Regions from separate parts of the Homo sapiens genome. Here all the other regions are linked to region 1. Evidence: fine-mapped expression QTL. A gene starts in region 1. Each other region holds a variant in brackets. All regions are shown on one strand. Distances are between the middles of the regions.

Region 1 (8,182 bases):
GTTGAGATCATGCCACTGCAGTCCAGCCTGGGCGACAGAGTAAGACTTTGTCTCAAAAACAAAAAAAAATTAGGCCAGGCGCGGTGACTTACGCCTGTAATCCCAGCTCTTTGGGAGGCCGAGGTGGGTGGATCACCTGAGGTCAGGAGTTTGAGACCAGCCTGGCCAACATGGTGAAACCCCATCTCTACTAAAAAATACAAAAATTAGCCAGGCGTGGTGGTGCATGCCTATAATCCCAGCTATTCGGGAGGCTGAGGCAGGAGAGTTGCTGGAACCCAGGAGGTGGAGGTTGCAGTGAGCCGAGATCTTGTCATTGCACTCCAGCCCGGTCCAACAACAGCAAGACTCTGTCTCAAAAAAAAAAAAGCCAGGCATGGTGCTGCACGCCTGTAGTCTCAGCTACTGTGGAGGCTGAGGTGGGAGGATCCCTTGAGCCTGGGAGGTCAAGGCTGTAGTGAGCCATGATCAGATCATGTCACTGTGCTCTAGCCTAGGCAGCAGAGAAACCCTATCTCAAAAAAAAACAAAAACAAAAAGGGCGCCAGGTGTGCAGTGGCTCACGCCTATAATCCCAGCACTTTGGGAGGCCAAGGCAGGTGGATCACTTGAGGTCAGGAGTTCAAGACCAGGCTGACCAACATGGTGAAACCCCGTCTGTACTAAAAATACAAAATTAGCCGGGCATGGTAGGGCACACCTGTAATCCCAGCTACTCAGGAGGCTGAGGCAGGAGAATTGCTTGAACCTGGAGGTGGAGGTTGAGCAACAAGAGCGAAACTCTGTCTCCCCAAAAAAAAAAAAAAAGAAAAAAAAAGATGAAGTTTTTTGGGTTTTTTTCCTAAACACCTGGTCAAGTGTTTGCCTGTGTCCAGTCATTTGCCATATAAAAAGCACAGTTCAACCCTATTTTCTGCAAAGTGGAGGGAAAAGGGCTGTGGGCTGGTCAGTCAGCAGTTTAATTTAGAAGTAGTTATTGGTAGTGGCCAATAAATAAACTAACATCTTATTATTTCAAGCCATTTGGAGAGTTCAGGACTGTTTGTTCTCTTGTGAAATTTCCAGTGGTTGTTGAATTCAGATAAATAGCCGTGAAACAGTGTCTAGTTAAAGTAATAAGCTAACAAGTGTTCTAGCAGATCAGAAGTCAGAAAAATCAATGATTTACTCTCTGTGTCTAGCTATCCCTTCTCCTCCTCTTCCTGTAAACACATCAGTGTTTTTATTCAGAAGTACAAATGGTTATAAAACTCAAATATAAGTTGAAAATTATGTATTTTGCACAACTTCAGAATGAACTTTTCTTGAAATCCACAACTTGTAGATTGATGACTACAGCATGGTTCGATTTTTACCTTACGATCAGTCAGATGAAGAAAGCATGAACATTGTATTGCAGCATATTGATTTTGCCATTCAATATGGAGAAGACCTAGAATTTAAAGAACCAAAGGTAATTTCTGGTTTGGGGTGTTTGTTAGCTTTTGATAAAAATATTTGCCAGCACTCACTGGACTCTTGCATAATCCAGGCGACTCCTTAAATTAGTTTTTTGTCTTATTGATGGCAGTTAACTGGGCTTTTCTGGGTGATCTCTGAAATTAACACTGTACTCCACAAGCAGTATCACTTTTACTCTACTTTTGTTGAGGCAGTATGATGAAGCCTGTGTGTACTTAGAGCTTGGGTGTATGTGTAAAGAGGAGGTGAAATTGGGCTGCCCTCACGTATGTCATTGAGAAGACTAATGATAGTATCAGCTAAGCATTTTTTTATTTTTTTATTTTTTATTTTCCTGACCACTAGACTACCAGCGAAGTAAAGCACTATCACAGGAAATTAGCCAAGAATCGTCTTGAATGTAAATTCAAATGAGAAATGCTTCTGGGATAGAAGCACATTAATTTACTACATAACTGGAAAAAAATCTGTCAATCATGCCTTTTCTTACTATTAACAGTTACCTATAAGCAGCACCTGGAGCTGGTGCTGGGTAATTAGTTCCACATAGGGTATTACCTGAAAAATATATAAACACATACTAGTTCTGACTGAGGGGAAATGAATATATTTTCTATTTTGTGTTTCCATTGTGTCAGGAACGTGAAGATGAGTCTTCCTCTATGTTTGACGAATATTTTCAAGAATGCCAGGATGAATGAAGAGTTTACTAAAAGTAACCATCTAAAGAGCTTGTGGCCAAACCAGCAGAACATTCTTCTCTTCAAAGGATGCAATAGTAGAAAGCTACTTATTTTAATGAAAAAAAGTAAAACTTCGTTCTTTATCAGCCTCATGCCTGAATCAAATTTTTAATTATTCTGAAACTGCTGCTGTTTAAAGTGGAATCTTTTAGTATTATAACAGCATCACTTTAGATTTTGTAAGTCAAAATTGAAATGAATGCACATAGATTTATATATAAATTAGCACCTGAGCTAAGGTTAAGGCTGGTCTAAACTTATTTTCACTTTTTGTATTATTTTTGAGATGCAGGAATTACTGTAACAAAATATGTATGTCCGAAGGGAAAAAGCTGCAAGGATATATATAAGACCACTGCTTATCTGTATCTTCCCATTTTCCTATATTGAAAATGTATATTATTTATATAACTTAAAAAGTAAAAATAACTATGTTTTGAGATATGTATGTGTATATATAAAAGAAACAAAGGTTTTTAATGATTCTTGGACCTAGATAACAAGTACACTGCAGTGTCTAATTTGATTCATTTTAATTAAGCAAAATGTGGCCAAGCGTGGTGGCTCACACCTACAATGCCAGCACTTTAGGAGGCCGAGGCAGGTGGATCACCTGAGGTCAGGAGTTCAAGACCAACCTGGCCAACATGGTGAAAGCCTGTCTTTACTAAAAATACAAAAAATTAGCTGGGCGTGGTGGCGCGTGCCTGTAATCGCAGCTACTTGAGAGGCTGAGGTGGGAGAATCCCTTGAATCCAGAAGGTGGAGGTTGCAGTGAGCCAGGATCGCACCATTGCACTCCAGCCTGGGCAACAGAGTGAGACTCCATCTCAAAAAAAAAAAAAATGTGAGGACCTGTAAGTATCGGTGGTAGCTTATGCCTGGGGGCCAGGCTAGAGGGAAGGGTCGGGTGTCTACCCCATGGTCCACTCAGGGAGGAGCATGATGAGTGGGCAACATGGGGATGTGCTGGGCTGCCTGGGGACCTTCCTGTGGCCCTTAGAGGATAGATAGTGTGGAAACAGCCTGATCTCCCAGGGTTGCTAATTCTTAGAAACTTATTGTCACATGGGAGGGGAAGAAAGAAGAGGCAGATTTTCAGTTGCCCTCTTCCTTGGTCCTCCCTGGTTTAGCTTCTAGAGAGTATGGTATGTGCCTGTGGAGAAAAAGTGAAGGACCCGATTCCAGTGCCTTCCCCACTGGACACTGGGGTTTCAAAGATGAATCTGACAATTCCAGTCCTCGAGGATTTCACTGTCTCATAGGCAGGGCTGACAGAAATTCAGTAAATTTACACAAATTTACTGAAGTTCCGTGGATGCCAGACACTGGGGATAGAACAGGGATGCACAGTGCAGGCAGGGCCTTGCTCACGTGGGGCTGCCATGCTGGGCCTGTGAGACTGACCATGAGGAAGGAAACCTCAGAGAGAGGATGGAAAGAAAAGCAGAAAAGAAATGGAGAGTGATTATGGGGCTACTTTGGGCTCTTTGTCAAAAAAGACCTTGCCTAAAAGGTGCTATTTGCCCAGTCAGCTGAATGTGAAATCAGATGTGGGAACATGGGGTCCTATTTCAGGCTGGGAACTGGCAGAAGAAATGGCTCTCAGGCAGCAATGAACTTGACTTTTAACATAAGAAGTTTTCTAGTAATAAATAAGTTAAAACTCTGGGCTTTCAGTATGCTCCAAGCATGTAAGTTCTAAGCATTTTACATGTAATTCATTTCATCCTCACAAAACTATGAGGTAAATACTGTTACTGCCATTTTCAGGTGAGGAACTGAAGCACAGGCCAGTTAACTTGCTCAAAATTACAGAGCTAGTATGTATTGGAGCTGCGATTCAAACCTGGAGTCCAGTGCCCTTCAGTTTCTCCATTTTTAGATGCAGTGCATTGGGTTCATTCATTCACTCAAATATTGATGTTTCCTACATACCGTCACTGTTACGGGCGCAGGTGACAAAACGGACGAAGTGCTGCCTTTTTGGCATTCACAAGCACTAAGAGTAAACTAAATACAAGAATCGTAAGAACTAAGGGAAAAAGCGGGAGAGAAGGATAAGGCATGGGGCTGGAGTTGGGTGAACTGAAAATAGAATGAACGGAGAATGCTTCACAGGAAAGGTGATTTTTTTTTTTTTTTTTTTTTTTTTTTTTTGAGAGAGTCACACTGTCATCCCGGCTGGAGTGCAGCGGCGCGATCTTGGCTCACTGCAACCTCTGCCTCCTGGGTTCAAGCGATTCTCCGGCCTCAGCCTCCCGAGTAGCTGGGATGCTACCACGACCAGCTAATTTTTGTATTTTTAGTAGAGACGGGGTTTCACCATCCAGGCTGGTCTCGAACTCCTGACCTCAGGTGATCCACCCGCCTCGACCTCCCAAAGTGCTGGGATTACAGGCGTGAGCCACTATGCCCGGCCCTGAAAAGGTGACATTTGAAAAAAATACAAAAGAGGTGATTGATCTCAGATTCTGGAACCTCAAGACCCATCTCCATTCTGGGCGCTGCCTCACGCTGCACCACTCAAGGCCCCTGCCTAGTGCTCTGGCGCCTCCTTCAGATCCGCGCGGCCGCTGCAACCAGAAGCGGAACTGCAAGGCCGGAAGCTCCACGTCCGCACCCGCCCCTTCCGTTTCGCTTCCGCCTACCTCGCCCAGGCTGCCAGACCGGAAGCGCTCCGCTGTACCTGGATCCTGCTCCTCTGGGTTGAAACCCGGGCGCCGCCAAGATGCCGGTGAGGGTTCGATCCACGGTGTGGGGAGACAGCGGGGATTGCGAAGAGCAGAGAGAAACCGTGTGTGTGCCGAGAGAAGCGGGCGGCGGAAGGCAGAGAGGAAGCTGGGGCCCGAGAAGGAGGGAGGCGAGGGGAGGGGACCGGTTGCTGAAGGATTGGGGCGGCCCGGGGGTGCCAGTCGTGGGAGGCGGGGGCGCGGCAGGAGTGGGCCAAGGGTCCAGGGTGTGTGAGGAGGCCCTTTTCTCTCTCCGTCTACTCCTTCCGACTCCGGCAGGGTTCCCAAAGCCTCACTAGAGAGCGAAGCCAAGGGCTGCGCTTTTTATTTTTCATATTTCAAGTCCAGGGGTCTAGCTTCTCCTTTTTCTGTCAGGCCCACTTCCTCCTCCGCCCCGGGGTCAGGCTCCCTCTGCTGTTTGTCATTTGTCAGAACCCACTTCCCGGCAGCGGCGGCCATCCCGGAGCCAGCTGGGTTTAGGGCCCTCACAGACTCGTTCGGCGCCTGACTTCCAAAGATTTCCTTTTTCGTGTGCCATCAGAGTGGGAGTAAAAAATTATGACGGCCTGGTTGTACTTAATTTCTGACAGCCAGTTTGTGGGGTAGATTTATCACCGTCATGGTCTCCATTTTGCAGATTCGGGAAAAGGTGGTTCAGTTATTATGTGATTGTTCACACTTTTTTTGTTGTTTGTTTTTTGAGAGAGTCTCGTTCTGTCGCCCAGGCTGGAGTGCAGTGAGGCGATCTCGGCTCACTACAACTTCCACCACCCTGGTTCAAGCAATTCTCGTGCCTCAGCCTCCCGGGTAGCTGAGATTACAGGCGCGCGCCACCACGCCCAGCTAATTTTTTGCATTTTAGTAGAGACGGGGTTTCACCATGTTGGCCAGGCTGGTCTGGAACTCCAGACCTCAGGTGATCCGCCCCCTCGGTCTCCCAAAGTGCTGGGATTATAAGCGTGAGCCATCGCGCCCAGCCTGCTCACACATTATTTTTAACAAACGTTAACGAGCACCTGCTGCCTGCCAGGCTGTATTTACAGCAGCAAATAAGTTCAACAAATCCCTAATCTTAAAGAATGTACATTCAAATCGGGAGTCGAGACAATAAAAGTGTAAACATAATAAAGGAGATACATACGGTAGTGTCAGGTAGTGACAAATGCTATAAAGAAGCTAGATGGGTGGTCAGGCGCAGTGGCTCACGCCTGTAATCCCAGCACTTTGGGAGGCCTAGGTGGGCGGATCACGAGGTCAGGAGTTCAAGACCAGCCTGGCCAACATGGTGAAACCCCATCTCTACTAAAAATACAAAAATTAGCCAGGCGTGGTGGTGCGTGCCTGTAATCCCAGCTACTTGGGAGGCTGAGGCAGGAGAATCGCTTGAACCCAGGAGGCGGAGGTTGCAGTGAGCCGAGACCGTGCCACTGCACTCGTCTAGTGACAGAGTGAGACTCTGTACCACCACCCCCCCCCCCCCCGGAAAAAAAGAAGCTAGATGGGTAACAAGACAGTTGGTGAGAGGGAAGGCGGAGGCTGCTTTAGATAAAGCATACCTGTGATGAAAAGGAGCAAGCCATAGTTGCAAATACATTTTTTTTTTTTTTGAGACAGGGTGTGACCCTGTCTCTCAGGCTGCAGTTCAGTGACACAAACTCGGTTCAGGTGATCCTCCCACCTCAGCCTCCTGAGCAGCTGGGACTACAGGTGTACGCCACCATGCCCAGCTAAGTTTTTGTGTTTTTAGTAGAGACAGAGTCTCACCATGTTGTCCAGGCTGATCTCAAACTTCTGGGCTCAAGCAGTCCTCCTGCCTCACCCTCCCTAAGTGTTGGGATTACAGACATGAGCCACCTCGCTCAGCCTCACAAATGCATATTTTATGAATCCCATAATTACCATTTGACTCCTGAGCTCTGGGGTACACACTTTATAAATTATCCCATCTAATCCTCATAACGACCCTATGAAGTAGGTACCATGATTCCTGTTTTACAGAAGAGGAAACGGAGCCTCAGAGAAGTTAATTTGGACAAGGTTGCCTAGTAATGGTAAAACCAGGTTTTAAGCCAGGACTCTAGGCTGGGTGCAGTGGCTTATGCCTGTAATCCCAACACTTTAGGAGGCCAAGATGGGAGGATCACTTGAGCCCAGGAGTTTGAGACCAACCTGGGCAACATAATGAGACCCTGCCTCTACAAAAATAAAAATAAATTAGCTGGATGTGGTAGTGCATGTCCTCCCAGCCTCTCAAGAGGCTGAGGTGGGAGGATCACCTGGAGCCAGGAGTTTGAGGCTGCAGTGAGCTGTGATCCTGCCACTGTACTCCAGCCTAGGAAACTCTGTCTCCAAAAAAAAAAAAAAAAAAAAAAAGGACTCTAAATCCCTGTACTGGTTCCAATCGCACATAGAGCACCCTGGATTCACTCTGTTGGGTTTTGTTTGTTTGTTTTTTTGGGGGGAGGGGTTTGTTTGTTTGTTTGTTTTTGAGACAGAGTCTTGCTGTGTCGCCAGGCTGGAGTGCAGTGGTGCCATCTCGGCTCACTGCAACCTCTGCCTCCTGGGTTCAAGCGATTCTCATGCCTCAGCCTCCCAAGTAGCTGGGAATACAGGCATGCACTACCACACCCAGCTAATTTTGATATTTTTAGTAGAGATGGGGTTTCACCATGTTGGTCAGGGTGGTCTCGATCTTCTGGCCTTGTGATCTGTCCGCCTCAGCCTCCCAAAGTGTTTGGATTACAGGCGTGAGCCACCCCGCCCATCCCATCCTGTGATTATTTTCTGTCTGTCTTCTCTACTCTTCAAGGACCAGAATCGTACTACTTTGTATATTACTATATCACAGTGTCTTGCACATAGAAGGTGCTTAGCAATCATTTGATGAATGAATGAATATATGAATGGGACCCATGTTGACTTATAAAAAGCCAGACATCTTGTAAAAAGCAGAACTAAGAATCAGCATACAAAATGCTCTCATAAATGTGATTTTTTTTATCCCTTCCTTTAACACACACCTACCCACTGAAGGGAATATATATCTTCTCATTTTACAAATTTGGAAACAAGCTAAGAGAAGAAGAATGATGTCTTGGTCAAAAGCATAACGCCATGAAGTGGCAGAGCTGAAAAGATAGTGCTTGGGTCTTGGTTTAGCTGGGGGCTGGGTACCCTGATTTATATGATGTTTGTCTTTCTGTAGTGGAAATACTTTGGCCAGATACCAATGTGATGTCACCGAAC
Region 2 (8,182 bases), 68 kb before region 1:
TTAGGATTATCAATATTTGAGATACTTCAGTTTCTAATACATTGCTTACCTTCAGTTCAGTAGATTTCGTAAGGTTTAACACTACAGCATTCTGTAAAGCTTATCATCTATCTTATAGAATAAGATGTTATTAACTGGGACTCCACTATGAAGGAATTTGTGATATTTGTTGGGATGAAATTTACGTTTGTACTATTATGAATACAAGATTTACCAAACAAATTTGAAAAGTAAAATTAGAAGGAAACATTTTAGGAAACAAATTATTTATATGATCTCAGCATATTATTGTTATTCAAGATAGAATATACCATAAAAAAATCATAATTTATTCTTGGAAACAAGTGACCCAAACCTCTACTTGAATATGCTTTGTTAGAAATTACTGACTGAACAATTTAACTATTTTCTATTGATATTCTGTAAATCAGACTTTTCTCTATCAGACTTTTCTTCATTCTATAATTCAGACTAGCTTCACTTTTCCCCTATCAAAAAATAAGAAAATCAATTTTCAGAACATGGCTGGGTGGGGATTGGGGAGGAAGACTGCAAAGGGAGACAGATGAGAATTCTTGACTGAGATGTGGTTGAATCTCAATGCTTTTACCTTTCTGAGACACAGAGACCCTGGCACTTCCTCTGTGTTGCTGACACTGCTTTCTGATACTTCACTGACATCTCCATCCACTCTTTTCATTGCAGGGCTGCCACAGTTTTCCAATGCAGATATGTTTGTGAGAGTCTCCTTAGGATAAAGCCTTCTTGGTGCTGCTTTTTTTGAAATACATTCCAGGGCCTGGCCAGTTACATTTTTGCCAGCCTTTTTTTCAATCAGATCTGACCTGAGGTATTAATAGGCATTAAATGAATGAACTGTTTATTGTGAAATATATTTTTATATAACTAATGGACAATGTGGGATGACAATGATAGCACTGGATTAGGGAATATATTGAAATACATGGAACTAAATTGTTGCAAGTTAAAATTTATATATATGATCATTTATAAATTCTCTTGACAGACAATCTTTCAGTAAAGCAACTCATTGTGCATAGAATATCTTGTGATATGGTAACAGGAGCAAGTTAGGGGAAAAGTCAAGTAAATTACTATACATCTATATGATAAAATTGTGTACAGTCATTAAGAATCATGTTTTCGGCCGGGCACGGTGGCTCACGCCTGTAATCCCAACACTTTGGGAGGTCAAGGGGGGTGGATCACGAGGTCAGGAGTCCAAGACCAGCAGGGCCAAGATGGTGAAACCTCGTCTCTACTAAAAATACAAAAAAATTAGCCGGGCGTGGTGGCAGGCACCTGTAATCCCAGCTACTCTGGAGGCTGAGGCAGAAAACTGCTTGAACCCAGGAGGCGGAGGTTGCAATGAGCTGAGATGGCGCCACTGCACTCCAGCCCGGGTGACAAAGCGAGACTCTGACTCAAAAAAAAAAAAAAAAAAAGAATTATGTTTTCAAGTCATTATCAGTGATATTGAAACACACCCACAATACCAAAACCGCATATGCTCTATGATCCTAATCTTGTTTTAAAATACAAGGATAGGCCGGGTGCAGTGGCTCACATCTGTAATCCTAGCACTCTGGGAGGCCGAGGCAGGTAGACTGCTTGAGCCCAGGAGTTAAGAGACCAGCCTGGGCAACATGGTAAAACCCGATCTCTACAAAAAACACAAAAATTAGCTGGGTGTGGTGGCAGGTGCCTGTAGTCCTGGTTACTCAGGAGGCTGAGGTGGAATGCTTCAGCCTGGGAGGTTGAGACTATGATGAGCTATGACTGTGCTACTGCACTCCAGCCTGGGTGACAGAGTGAGACCCTGTCTCAAAAAATTTTTTTAAAAAATTTGAAAATACAAGTATACACAAAATTAAGTCTGAAAGAAAATGCAGTGAGCCAGAATGTTACAGTGGCTATCTCTGGGTGATGCAATTATGAGTAAGTTTTATTTTCTTCTTTGTACTTTTCTCTATTTTCCAAATTTCCTGAAATAACTTTTACAATAAAGCATCATTCTTCCCCCAAAAGAAAAGAAATTAAGAAAGAAAAAAAAGCCAGGCGCAGTGGCTCATGCTTGTAATCCCAGCGCTTTGGGAGGCTGAGGCGGGCAGATCACAAGGTCAGGAGTTCGAGACCAGCCTGACCAACATAGTGAAACCCCGTCTCTACTAAAAACACAAAAATTAGCCAGGCGTGTTAGTGCACACATGTCATCCCAGCGACTAGGGAGGCTGAGGCAGGAGAATTGCTTGAACCCAGGGGGTGGAGGTTTTAGTGAGCTGAGATCATGCCACTGCACTCCAGCCTGGGCAACAGAGTGAGATTCTGTCTCAAAAAAACAAAAAAAAAACAACAAAAAAAAAAAAAAAAAAGAAAGCAAGAAAGCAATGGCTATCCCTATATCTGAGCAAAAGTTCTAGGAAGTGAATATAGACTTTCCTGTGAAAACACTATATTACCCCTAAAAAAAAACAAAAAAAAAAACTAAAGGCCCGATGTGGTGACTCACACCTGTAATCCCAGCACTTTGGGAGGCTGAGGCAGGTGGATGGCTTCAGCCCAGAAGTTTGAGACCAGCCTGGGCAACATGGTGAAACCCTGTCTCTACAAAAAAAAATACAAAAAATTAGCTGGGTGTGGTGGCACATGCCTATAGTCCCAGCTACTTGGGAGGCTGAGGTGGGAGGACCACTTGAGCCAGGGAAATGGAGGCTGCAGTGACTTGAGATTGCGCCAGAGCACTCAAGCCTGGGCAATGGGAGTGAGACCTTGTCTAAAACAATAACAACAACAACAACAACAACAAAAACTAAAAATTGGAATTGAGTTCTGGGAAACAACACAGATAAACCAGACAGTCTTGTTCAATTCTGGTCAGAACAGAAAAAGCAAATATCTGACACGAGATTGGTGATGTTTCTATGCTACAGGTAAGTTTCACTACAGCTCTTCTGTATTCAGTCAAAATTTGTTAACTAATATTTCACTCCTCAATTGTTTCCTAAGTGAATGCAAGTGAATTATTTCAAAATAAGATTATGATGGCTTGTCCCAAGTAATAAAGAAGTTAAAACACAGTCTTACCTTTTTCGTTTCTGTGAAAGACACAGTGACTGTGGTGAAGATGCTCTACTTTGTTCATCAGCTAATGTGGCCAAAATAAAGTTAGCTTCCACTAACATATCATCAATACTCAAAGCCAGAGGTCTAAAAAAGCCAAGTCAGAGCAACAGTGACACTCATTTTCTGATGGACATTAGAAACACATTAGAAATGATACTTAATTCTGGACTAAAAAGAAACAGGGGAGGCCAAGGCGGGTGGATCATCTGAGGTTGCGAGTTTGAGACCAGCCTGACCAACATGAAGAAACCCCGTCTCTACTAAAAATACAAAAAAAAAATTAGCCGGGCATGATGGTGCATGCCTGTAATCCCAGCTACTCAAGAGGCTAAGGCAGAAGAATCACTTGAACCTGGGAGGCGGAGGTTGCAGTGAGCTGAGATTGCACCATTGCACTCCAGCCTGGGCAACAAAAGCAAAACTCCATCTCAACAACAACAACAACAACAACAACAACAACAACAACAAACAGTAGGCCGGGTGCTATGGCTCACGCCTGTAATCCCAGCACTTTGGGAGGCCGAGGCTGGTGGATCTCTTGAAATCAGGAGTTCAAGGCCAGCCTGGCCAACATGGTGAAACCCCGTCTCTACCAAAAATACAAAAATTAGCCAGGCATGGTGGTAGACGCCC[G/A]TAATCCCAGCTACTTGGGAGGCTGAGGCAGTAGAATTGCTTGAACCCGGGAGGCAGAGCCTGCAGTAAGCCGAGATCATGCCACTGCACTCCAGCCTGGGCGACAGAGTGAGACTCCGTCTGAAAAAAGAAAAAAGAAAATTTTAAATGCCATGTTTTAGCATCTTTCAAAATTTTAGTTTGATAAGTATTAATAGTAAAGTTTAGGTATTCCTGAGGTGTTAATTAATTTCAAAGTGATCCAAAAGGTTTTGTTATTGATATAAAACAAAAGAAACAAGCTCAGAAAAATTCTCAAGGACCTACTTCCCAGGGAAATCAAAATAAATGGATATAGGAGCATGTGTAGCTTCTGAAAATGTCAGTATTCCCTGAAAAAAGAAAAGAAGAAAAAAACTTAAAATCCTTATAAAAACTTACAGTGAAAATTTGAATTTTAAATTGATACAAATCTTTATTTACCTTCAATTCTTTGAAACAAAATGTTATCTCAGTGTCCATTCCAATTTGAAAGAAGTCAAACTCATCTGAGCCAACAAACATCTCACTGTGTACAGCATTGCTCAAATCTGTTTAATATTATGGGAAAATAAAGAATAAAATTAGTTCCAGAGATGAATTTAGAGGAAAAAAGAATTTTTCTGGTCTCCCAAATCCCATCCCATTTCCTCCTGCCCTACGTACCCTAACTTCCCCACCTGATATCTGCATGCTATTTTTAAATGCCTTTGTTCAAAAGAGAAATTTAATATTTTACATTTCTCTTAAACTACCCAATGATTCAGGGTCTATAAGTCCATTTCACATAAATTAAACTGTTTATGTTTAAATACCAGATTTCTTATCTAAGTTAATTAATAAATTTTTTGTTTTCTTCTTTTTGAGAGAGGGTCTTACTGTGTTGCCCAGGCTGGAGTGCAGTGGCATGATCACAGCTCACTGCAGCCTTGACCTCCTGGGCTCAAGTGATCCTCTGCCTCAGTCTTCTGAATAGCCGGGACTACAGGCATCTGCCACTTACATGCACATTTTTAACTTTTTTTTTTTTTCTTTTGAGACGGAGTCTCACTCTGTTGCCCAGGCTGGAGTGCAGTGGCACAATCTCGGCTCACTGCAAGCTGTGCCTCCCGGGTTCACGCCATTCTCTTGCCTCAGCCTCCCGAGTTGCTGGGACTACAGGCGCCCACCACCACACTCGGCTAATTTTTTGTATTTCTTTTAGTAGAGATGGGGTTTCACTGTGTTAGCCAGGATGGTCTCGATCTCCTGACCTCGTGATCCACCCGCCTCAGCCTCCCAAAGTACTGGGATTACAGGCGTGAGCCACTGCGCCTGGCCATATTTTTAAATGAAAGTACAATCTTACCCTACATACCATTTCATAATCTACCCAATAATATATCAATATATCTTGGCTATTTTTCCATGTCAATAAGCACATTTTTATAATTATTTGTGTGTGTGTGTGTGTGTGTGTGTGTGTGTGTGTGTGTCAATGTTTTGTGTTTTCCACTACAAAATTGCTTCATTAAACCTCTCTGATACATACCCTCAGAGAGAGAGGAATGTATTTATACATACACATATAACATTACTTTAATGTTTTTATTATTTTTTTTTTGAGATGGAGTCTCATTCTGTTGCCCAAGCTGGAGTCCAGTGGTGTGATCTCGACTCAGTGCAAGGTCCACCTGCCAGATTCTAGCGATTCTCCTGCCTCAGCCCCCTGAGTAACTGGGACTATAGGCACACACCACCACGTCCAGCTAATTTTGTATTTTTAGTAGAGAAAGGGTTTCACCATGTTGGCCAGGCTGGTCTCAAACCCCTGACCTCAGGTGATCAGCCCTCCTCGGCCTCCCAAAGTTCTGGGATTACAGGCATGAGCCACCACGCCCGGCCCATTAATTTTTTTTGAGACTGGGTCTCACTCTGTTGCCCAGGCTGTAATACAGTGGCATGATCATAGCTCACCTGCAACCTTGAAATCTTGAGCTCAAGTGATCCCCTTGCCTCAGCTGCTGCAGCATAGACTACAGGTGCATGCCACCATACCTGGCTAATTTTTTATTTTTGTAGAGATGGGATCTTGCTGTGTTGGCCAGGCTGGTCTGAACTCCTGGCCTCAAGCAATCCTGCCTCAGCCTCCCAAAGCACTAGGATTACAGGGGTGAGCCATTGTACCTGGCCAATGTTACTTTTAATAGTTTCATAGTATTTCATTATCTTCACTCAATCTCCTGTTGTGAGATCTAAAGTATAGAAGGAGATATACCCAACTATTAAAAGTGCTTATCTCTGTATAGTGGGATATCAGGTGACTTAAAAAATTTTTTTTGTATTTTTAATTTTCTTCAATGAATATCAATTATATAAGTAGTAAGAACAAAGATTGAGTGATATATATATACATATTTATTATTATTATTATTTTAGACAGAGTCTTGCTCTGTCGCCAGGCTGGAGTGCCGTGGCGTGATCTTGGCTCACTGCAACCACCGCCTCCCAGGTTCAAGTGATTAATCCCCTGTCTCAGCCTCCCAAGTAGCTGGGACTATAGGTGCACACCACCACGCCCCACTAATTTTTTGTATTTTAATAGAGACGGGGTTTCACCATGTTGGCCAGGATGGTCTCGATCTTCTGACCTCATGATCCGCCTGCCTCAGCCTCCCAAAGTGCTGGGATTACAGGCGTGAGCCACCGCACCCGGCCAAATGATATATTTTTTAAAGGATCAAACAATGTCTTAAATATACATTCATCTCCAACAAGAAGGCTCATGTCACTCCTAATATACTAGCATAGAAGAAGTTTAATAATAAGATTAAACAACTAGATTGCCAGTCAACTATAACTTCATTAGAAAGCTACTCACAAGGGACAGTTTCTCCTGGCTACTAAATGGCCATCTTTATTCAGAGATGGCATGATGGTACATAAAACAGACCCTTTCACTAGGCAATTTGTGACACCAGGCAAGCCACAGTTTCTCTGTGCTTCAATTTTTTTTTTTTTGAGACAAGATCTTGCTGTCTTGCCTGGGCTGGAGTGCAGTGGCACAATCATGGCTCACTGCAGTCTCAAACTTACGGGCTCAAGCAATCCTTCCACCTTAGCCTACCAAGTAGCTGACACTACAGGTGTGCACCACCATGCCTGGCTATTTTTCTTATGTTTTGTAAAGATGAGGTGTCACTATGTTGCCAAGGCTGGTAACTCCCCTCAAGTGATCCTTCTGCCTCAGCCTCCCAAAGTGTCCAACTGCTTCATATGTGCTTTATATGTGCTTTCAATTTCTTCATATGTAAAATGGGGATAATAATAGTACCTACATACATCTTAGAGTTGTTATGAAGATCAAATGACTTCATAAATGCAAACTATTTAGAACAGAACCTGGCACAAACACTACAAAAGTCATGTGACCCAACTTAAGCCCTGGTTTTTCACTTTAAAATAATAGTTCTTTCCTTTGTATCCTCTCCTTACTGCTGTCACCAAAAACATATTATCTAAGGTCAAAGAGTCTCAAACAGCTTGTTGTGCCAAAAGACCGTAGCAAATTTTCTTTTTTCTTTTATTTGAGACAGAGTCTCTGTCGCCCAGGCAATGGAGTGCAATGGTGCAATCTTGGCTCATTGCAACCTCCACCTCCCGGGTTCAAGCGATTCTCCTGCCTCAGCCTCCTGAGTAGCTGGGATTACAGGCCTGAGCCACCACACCCAGCTAATTTTTTTATTTTTAGTAGAGATGGGTTTTCGCCATGTTGGCCAGGCTGGTCTCGAACTCCCGACCTCAGGTAATCCACCTGCCTCAGCCTCCCAAAATGCTGGGATTACAGGCGTGAGCCACAGCACCTGGCCCCATTCTCCTAGTTTTAAAACACCCTGAATTTCAAAGCCAAATATTTTAATTGCTGATTGTGTTAAACTTGTTGGATCTCTTAAAGCTTTTTCCAACCTTTCTACATCTTACTGCTTTTTAGACAGGAATAAAATTATGTCACTAATATTTGCAGTATGGTTAGTAATCGAGAGACAGGAAGTAATAACCCATCAAAACACCATTTCAGATACAATCTTTACCCATTGATTCCTCATTAGAACTCTTGAGGCAAAAATTCAGTGGAGTAACAGCAAGAGTAACTTCCTCTTGACTTGATGTAAAAAGAACAATGGCATCAGCAAGCAATCTATAAAATGTAAAGAACAGTATTAACATTATTTGAAAAACAAACAGAAAGACATACCTTATTAACTGGGACTCAAATCTCTAATCTGGAAATAAATAATTACTTGGCCTGGGTTTAGAAAAATTTACCCAAACTCCTACCTTCTTTCTTATACATAGCTGCTATATTTTCAGCATATTTTAAAATTATAACTTCATTTGAAGGCCAAGA
Region 3 (8,166 bases), 660 kb after region 1:
TCAAAAAATAAATAAATAAATAAATAAATAAATAAGTTAGATGGCATGGTGGCATGTGCTTGAAGTCCCAGCTGCTTGGGAGGCCGAGGCTGGAGGATCACTTGAACCTAGGAGTTCGAGGCTGCAGTAAGCCATGATTGCACCACTGCACTCCAGCCTGGAAAATAGAGCAAGACCCCGTCTTTAAAAAGCAAAAAGAAAAGAACAAAAAAAAAGCCAAATCCTCACTCTGCACTTTCCAGGCATGTGACCTCACTTCCCTGAGCCTCACCTTCCCCAGCTGTGCAGTGGGGATCACGAGAGGCCCTTGGGCTGTGATGTCAGCGCCCAGCTCTGTATTGTCTGTGTGCTTTAATCTGGTTTATGCTGGGACCAACAGCCCCATCACCAGGCCCAAAGCCCACCACTGCCGTTGTCATCACTGGACTCATGAAATATTTTGAATTTTGCCCCTGCTTAAAGGCATTCATTATGTGCAGCTCAGGGACAAAGTCACACAAAGAATTCCATCATCAGCTGGGCGCGGTGGCTCACGCCTGTAATCCCAGCACTTTGGGAGGCCGAGGTCGGCGGATCACTTGAGGTCAGGAGTTTGAGACCAGCCTGGCCAACATGGCGAAATCCTGCCTCTACTAAAAATACAAAAATTAGCCAGGTGTGGTGGCGTGCGCCTGTAATCCCAGCTACTCGGCTGAGGCACAAGAACTGCTTGCACCCGGGAGGTGGAGGTTGCAATGAGCCGAGATTGTGCCACTGCACTCCAGCCTAGGCGACAGAGTGAGACTTTGTCTCAAAAAAAAAAAAAAAAAGAATTCCATCATTGGATGTGTCCAGTCCCTCACAGCCTCCAAATCGCGTGGCTGTGCCCTTAACTAGCCACACCCCATCTCCCTGGCATCACCCAGAGAAACGTGCAGTTCATATCCACTGCTGGTGCTGTCTCCGTCATTATCCTCAGAGCGCCACGGTGTCCGTCCCCCGAGTGTCTGCAGGCAGAGTCCCACCCTGGGCCCCCTTCGCTGACCTCCCACCCTTCACCCTGGCCCGCAGGGGAGCTGCCCCTGTCGCTGGCTGCCTGCACCAACCAGCCCCACATTGTCAACTACCTGACGGAGAACCCCCACAAGAAGGCGGACATGCGGCGCCAGGACTCGCGAGGCAACACAGTGCTGCATGCGCTGGTGGCCATTGCTGACAACACCCGTGAGAACACCAAGTTTGTTACCAAGATGTACGACCTGCTGCTGCTCAAGTGTGCCCGCCTCTTCCCCGACAGCAACCTGGAGGCCGTGCTCAACAACGACGGCCTCTCGCCCCTCATGATGGCTGCCAAGACGGGCAAGATTGGGGTGAGTGTGCGGCTGGGGGCACAGCTGATCCACCTACTCGTACCCCTCTGCACACACACACGAGGGTCTGCTGCTGGTATTCATTATTAATACGTGCATGCACCTCCCAACATGCCAACCCCAGTGTGCAGATGTCCCAGCTCAAGAACCTGCTATGGCTCCCTAGTGTCCAGCCAAGCTCCTTAGCTTCATCCCCGAGCCTCTCGCCTCATGTCACCCTACTGGATGTTCACCACTCCACCCCCACCAGCCAGGATGAGCCACTGATAAGAAACTGAGTCCCCGGGCCCTAGCCCAGCGGTGCTCCCAGCCTCAAACCTGTTGAATGGCCCTGCCCCAGTTCCTTCCCTTTTCTGGGCCGCGCAGCATGGGGCCTGGAGAAGGGTTTCTCAACTTCAGCATGATTATTTTGGGCGGCAGGCTCTTTGTGGTGGGGACCGTCTTGTGCTATTGCCAGACATTGATCTGCATCCCGGGCCTCTACCCACCAGATGCCAGGAACACCTCCCCTTACACTTGTGACCACCAAAAATATCTCCAGAACATTGCTGAATTGTCCTCTGGGGGGCACCATCGCTGGATTGGGAACCAAGTCTGGAGTATGCTAGAGGCAGGAGCACCTGTCCAAGCCCTGGCGCTACCACTTCCCAGTGTGTGACCTCAGACATCTCATTTCCCTTTTCTGTGCCTCAGTTTCCTTGTCTGTAAAATGGGGATATAAGAGTGTCCTCTGGTGTGGTGTTGTGACAAATGCGGTGATCCACATAAGGCTCTTAGGAAGGAGCCTGGGAGAAGCAGTAAGTGTCACTTACATGTCTGTAATGCCAGCTAGTTGGGAGGCTGAGGTGAGAGGATCGTTTAAGTCCAGCCTGGATTATTTGAGATCCCAAATAAATAAAAACCAAAATAAAAAAAAATGTAGCAAAAATTACTAAAATTGCAATTATACCATGGCCCTGAGGCAGTAGAAAGGCTCCAGTTTAAATCCTGGCTTTGGCTAGGCTCAGTGGCTCGTGTCTGTAATCCTAGCACTTTGGGAGGCTGAGGTGGGAGGAGCACTTGAGCCCAGGAGGTTGAGGCTGCAATGAGCTGTGATAGTGCCATTGCACTCCAGCCTGGGCAACAGAGCCAGACCCTGTCTCAAAAAACCCCAAAATCCTGGCTGTGCACAGTGGCTCATGCCTGTAATCCCAGCACTTTGGGAGGCCGAGGTGGGCGGATCACCTGAGGTCAGGAGTTCAAGACCAGCCTGGCCAACATGGTGAAACCCCGTCTCTACTAAAAATACAAAAATATTAGCTGGGTGTGATAGTGGGCACCTGTAATCCCAGCTACTCAGGAGGCTGAGGCAGGAGAATTGCTTGAACCTAGGAGGAGAGGGTTGCAGTGTGCTGAGATCGCGCCACTGCACTCCAGCCTGGGTGACAGAGAGAGACTCTGTCTCAAAACAAAAACCCCAAAATCCTAACATTGCCTGACCTTGGGCAATTCCCACCCCTCTCTGTGCCTCCGCTTCCCTGTGTGTAAGCCAGGGAAGGAGGAGTGGTAACAGGAAGGACCGCATGTGATCGTCAGTATTATAATTCACATGTCATTAAGATGGATTCATTGCTATTTTAACGGCATGAAGAAGATATTCATTACAATTAAGATGTTGAAGGCTCATCCAGGTTCTGTCTGGCTCCAGCTGACTGGTTAAGTGGCTTCTGGAACACCCTTCGTTTTTCCCAGCCTCCATTCTTTATCTGTAAACCAAGATAATAAGAGCAAGAATTAAACAAGATGAGGAAAGGGTCCTCCAGCAGCCGGTGCTTAGCTGTTTTCTGGGGAGGCGTCATGTGCTGAGCTGGGCCCAGCCCTGGGGGTCTTTCCAGTGTGAGCCCCCTGACCCTCCTGGCCCCCTGTGCAGATCTTTCAGCACATCATCCGGCGGGAGGTGACGGATGAGGACACACGGCACCTGTCCCGCAAGTTCAAGGACTGGGCCTATGGGCCAGTGTATTCCTCGCTTTATGACCTCTCCTCCCTGGACACGTGTGGGGAAGAGGCCTCCGTGCTGGAGATCCTGGTGTACAACAGCAAGATTGAGGTGGGCTCCAGGAGGGGGCATGGGGTGTGAGGAAGGAGGGGCAGGGCTGGGAGTAGGGACAGGGCCCTGGGGCTGGGCTGGGGGAGACAGCCCCAGCCTCTAGGACCCAACGTGGTGGGTCTGTTGGCTGAATGCAAGAGAAGGTGCCAACTAAGTGCCCAGAACAGTGTCTGCCATGTGAGGAAATGAGCAAGACTTGTGGGAAGATGGACTTTTGGGGCAGGTAGGACTGGGTTGGGATCCTGGCTCTGTAACTTACATGCTGTGTGTCTCAGGACAAGTGGCTCCACCTCTCTGGGTCTCAGCTTCTTCATTTGTAACCTGGGGATAAGGATCATGGATATCCCATGGGGTTCTTGGGAGGACCAAAGAGGTTAATTTTAGAATGGCTTGGCACAGAGTAAACATTATGTCAGCTTTTACTACTCATGGTTGTTATATGAACTTTTGAAAGCTCTTTTTTTTCGGTCAGGCATGGTGGCTTATGCCTGTAATTCTAGCATTTTGGGGAGCCAAGGTGGGCGGATTGCTTGAAGCCAGGAGTTTGAGACTAGCCTGGGCAATATGGCGAAACCCCGTCTCTACCAAAAAAAAATAATAAAAATGAAAATTAGCTAGGCATGGTGGTGCGAGCCTGTAGTCCCAGCTACTTGGGAGGCGAGGTGGGAGGATCACCTGAGCCTGGGGAGGTCGAGGCTTCAGTGAGCCGAGATCATGCCACTGCACTCCAGCCTGGGTGACAGAGTGAGATCCTGTCTCAAAATAAACAAACAAACAAACAAACAAAAAACCAAGCTTTTTTTTCCCTACTTAGCAGTATTTTGTGAACGTCGTTCTGTACTTTTAAATATTCTTTGGTAATATTGTCGCTGCATGTAAACATACCATATTCAAATGAACTGTTCTCTTATTGCTGGT[C/T]GCTTGGGTTTGTTTCTGCCTTTATCAGGAATAACACTATAAGAGCATCTCTGTGGCTGCTTTATTGCACAAATCATGATTATAGAGAAACTCAAGTTAATAAAGGGCTAGGAAGCTATAAAAATGGAGCAGAAAATGCTGGGGACTGGGTGCAGGTGGTCTTCCTTCTAGCCCTGCCCTGTGGCTTACTGGTCTGTGAGCTTGGCTTCCTTGCAAGACCTCATTTCCCTCATTTTTTGAATTAGTGACCATCTTGATTTAAATTAGTGGTGGCAGGAGGTTTAGCATCTCAGGTGCAAACTGATTGATTAGTAGTGTCTACCCAGGGAACTGTATGAATACAATTGTGCAGGGCTCAATTATTGATGTCTGCCCTGGGTTCAGAATTGGAGAATTGTGGTGAGTCAATCATTTATCATCTTTGGGCAAAATTTCTCAATCTTTCTCTCTGAATCAGAATTTCTGAGAGCGGAGGCCAGGATTTATACTTGCAGCAAGTTACATAAATTATTTTGCGGCCAGCAGCTTGGTACTATCCACAGATTGGAGTTTGGGAACCATGAGAATAAATGTCTTTTTTTCTTTTTTGAGATGGAGTCTCACTCTTGTTGCCCAGGCTGGAGTGCAGTAGTGCGATCTAGGCTCACTGCAATCTCCGCCTCCCAGGTTCAAGTGATTCTCCTGCCTCAGCCTTAGGAGTAGCTGGGATTACAGGTGTGCACCACCACGCCCGGCTAATTGTTGTGTTTTTAGTGGAGACAGGGTTTCACCACATTGGCCAGGCTGATCTTGAACTGCTGACCTTAGGTGATCCGCCTGTCTTGGCCTCCCAAAGTGCTAGGATTACAGGCATGAGCCACTGCGGCCGGCCTGAAAATAAATGTCTTTTAAGGGACTTTCCAGTTCCGAGTTCTGTGATGCTAGAATAGGGTGGAAAGGTACATTGAGGCAGAATTGGGCAGCTGAATCCATTCATGAATCCGTGAATGCAGCTGAGGAATGGATGGAAAGAGAAAGCGCTGTCCGGGTGGAGGGTGGGGGAAGGCACACCCGAGGCAGCCTGCCTGGACCCCCCACCCATCTCAGGAAGGCAGCCCCCGACCACCCTGCCTCTCTTAGAACCGCCACGAGATGCTGGCTGTGGAGCCCATCAATGAACTGCTGCGGGACAAGTGGCGCAAGTTCGGGGCCGTCTCCTTCTACATCAACGTGGTCTCCTACCTGTGTGCCATGGTCATCTTCACTCTCACCGCCTACTACCAGCCGCTGGAGGGCACAGTGAGTGCCCGGGGACCGGGCAGGGGCTGGGGCAGGCACTGGGCTGAGCCATGCAGGACTGGGGCACAACCTCATCCTTCTGGGTCCCCTGTAGGGGGACCCGGAGAAGGTTTAGGAACAGGTTGGGGAGGCGCCCTCCAGCATCCACGGGTGGCCCTGAGCTGGGAGGAGGAAGACTCAGGAGGAAGAGAGTGAAGGAGGAGGCTCCATGGGATGCCGATGTTTCGGGCCTGGGGGAACATCTGGATTGGGGGCCAGATGTTGGAGGGGCTGGGTGACGACCTGTGTGCCCTTGCTGCTCCCCAGCCGCCGTACCCTTACCGCACCACGGTGGACTACCTGCGGCTGGCTGGCGAGGTCATTACGCTCTTCACTGGGGTCCTGTTCTTCTTCACCAACGTAAGTGCCTGGCCCCCGTGCCCCCCACCCTGCCTGCCCTCCTCTTCTCTTCCTGCACCTCTTTTCTCTCCCTCTTTTTCTCTTCTCTCTCCTCCAAATGGTCCTTCTCCTTTCCTTCCTCCTTTTATTTTCCCATTTCTCTTCTACCTCCTCCAATCCCACGTTCTCCATCTCTGCTTTTTTCTCCTTTTCTAACAGGAAAGAGTCCTTTGTCTTTTCTCTGTACCAGCCTCTGCCTCCCTCTCTTCTATCCCTTTCTCTGTCTCCTCTCTCCTCCTCTCCTCTCCTGCTGGCCCCACCCCTTTCACGTGCCCCCTCCTGTCTTCCAGATCAAAGACTTGTTCATGAAGAAATGCCCTGGAGTGAATTCTCTCTTCATTGATGGCTCCTTCCAGCTGCTCTAGTGAGTAGAGGTCCCTGGGCCGGCAGCTTCTGGGTGAGGAAGGTGGGTTTGGGCTGCTAGGTCGTCCAGATTCAGGAGAGAGGTGATTCTGTTAGAAATGAATGCACCCAACCTGGGCAGCTCTAACCCAAAGTCAGGACAAAGCCACAAACAATAGGGTCTTCTGGTTCAAGAAAAATTCTGATTGCTAGGGAGTTATCATATACAACATGGATAGAAATAATTTTAACCTCTTATGCTGGTGAATGATTGCTAATGTCTGCCTGAAGTGCCATGTTAAGAATTTTGCACCTGTGTCTGTGTTTAGTGGGAAAGAGTTGGGATTGATTAATGATGTCTGCCTGGGACAGAGAATGAGAGAGTTACTGAGTGTGTGTTACCTCTTTCACATTTCCCTTAGAGTTGGAGAATGATGAAATTCACTTAGCCACAAAATCTCCACTGAACACCACTAAATCTTTCTTTAGCAATTCCAAGGGGCATCACTTCAGGATCCTGTGGGACCTCAGGATTAATTGCCAGCTAATTGAATGTTCTTGTTAACAGAATGCTGGGGAACCCTGCTAATCCACTTTGTTTCTTTTCTGGGGGTCTAGAAGGCATTGGGAAGTCCTGATACCCTGGAGGGCTTGGAGGCGTGTCTTCCCCTCCAGAGCCTCATTGTCCCCTCTCCCCTCTGGCCTCTCTTGTGGTCTCTGCTGCACTGCAGCTTCATCTACTCTGTCCTGGTGATCGTCTCAGCAGCCCTCTACCTGGCAGGGATCGAGGCCTACCTGGCCGTGATGGTCTTTGCCCTGGTCCTGGGCTGGATGAATGCCCTTTACTTCACCCGTGGGCTGAAGCTGACGGGGACCTATAGCATCATGATCCAGAAGGTACGGGCTGGGAGGACCCTCTGGACTCGTGTGTTCCTGGAGGGAGTCACACACACACCACATGCACACTTATGCACCTGCAGACCTGAGGATGCTGGGTACCGTGGGGGCAGGAGGCATGGTCTGGACACTGGGGTGGGACCAGGGTGGAGATGGAGGAATGGGGAAAGTGAGAAACCATGTGTCTCCTCTTTGCCTCCATAATCCCGCTGGGGTCTTTAGATTCTCTTCAAGGACCTTTTCCGATTCCTGCTCGTCTACTTGCTCTTCATGATCGGCTACGCTTCAGGTGAGCTCTGGGTGCTCAGGTGGTCCTGGCAGGGGTGGTGCAAGGACGGGAACAGTAGCCATGATGTATAGGGGACAATAGCAGCCTTGCTGAGTTCTTTTTTTTTTTTTTTTTTTTTTGAGGTGGAGTTTTGCTCCTGTTGCCCGGGCTGGAGTGCAATGGCACAATCTCAGCTCACTGTAACCTCCACCTCCCAGGTTCAAGTAATTCTGCCTCAGCCTCCCACGTAGTTGGGATTACGGGCTCCTGCCACCACGCCCCACTATTTTTTAATTTTTTTTTTTTTGTATTTTTAGTAGAGATGGGGTTTCACCATGTTGGCCATGCTGGTCTTGAACTCCTGACCTCAGGTGATCCACCCTCCTTGGCCTCCCAAAATGGTGGGATTACAGGTGTGAGCCAACGCGCCTGGCCACTGAGTTCTTATTTGTGTGCCAGGCACCAGACTAAGTACGTTTCCATCCTTGCCTCCCAACAAGCCTGTAAGCTAAGTGCCTTTATTATCCCCTATTATAGAAAAGGAAACTGAGGCTTAGGAGGGTTAAATAACTAGCACAAGTTCAAAA

What was found. PIP is the estimated chance that this variant, and not a neighbour inherited with it, causes the effect.
Region 2: its variant is fine-mapped to the expression of ARPC3 in skeletal muscle (GTEx, PIP above 0.99). The same link has a PIP of 0.9 or more in lymphoblastoid cells.
Region 3: its variant is fine-mapped to the expression of ARPC3 in blood mononuclear cells (TOPMed, PIP 0.97).

Annotation. Positions count from the first base shown.
Region 1 is chr12:110,447,014-110,455,195 of GRCh38, reverse strand. ARPC3 (actin related protein 2/3 complex subunit 3) reads left to right here and starts at 4,859. Exons shown (of 7, transcript NM_001278556.2): 1 at 4,859-4,941. The coding sequence starts at 4,936. GPN3 (GPN-loop GTPase 3) reads left to right here. Exons shown (of 8, transcript NM_016301.4): 7 at 1,325-1,453; 8 at 2,100-2,710. The coding sequence ends at 2,162. RefSeq lists enhancers at 4,646-4,745, 5,451-6,303.
Region 2 is chr12:110,514,840-110,523,021 of GRCh38, reverse strand. It overlaps RAD9B (RAD9 checkpoint clamp component B), which reads right to left. Exons shown (of 11, transcript NM_001286535.2): 6 at 7,866-7,972; 7 at 4,240-4,346; 8 at 4,084-4,148; 9 at 3,106-3,228; 10 at 611-845. Among named protein-coding and RNA genes, the nearest start is that of RAD9B, 17 kb to the right of the region's middle. RefSeq lists a silencer at 7,490-7,733. The variant G/A (reference allele first, on the strand shown) is at 3,778.
Region 3 is chr12:109,791,797-109,799,962 of GRCh38, reverse strand. It overlaps TRPV4 (transient receptor potential cation channel subfamily V member 4), which reads left to right. Exons shown (of 16, transcript NM_021625.5): 6 at 1,051-1,349; 7 at 3,259-3,438; 8 at 5,476-5,634; 9 at 5,941-6,033; 10 at 6,363-6,436; 11 at 7,146-7,311; 12 at 7,534-7,600. Among named protein-coding and RNA genes, the nearest start is that of FAM222A-AS1, 22 kb to the right of the region's middle. The variant C/T (reference allele first, on the strand shown) is at 4,357.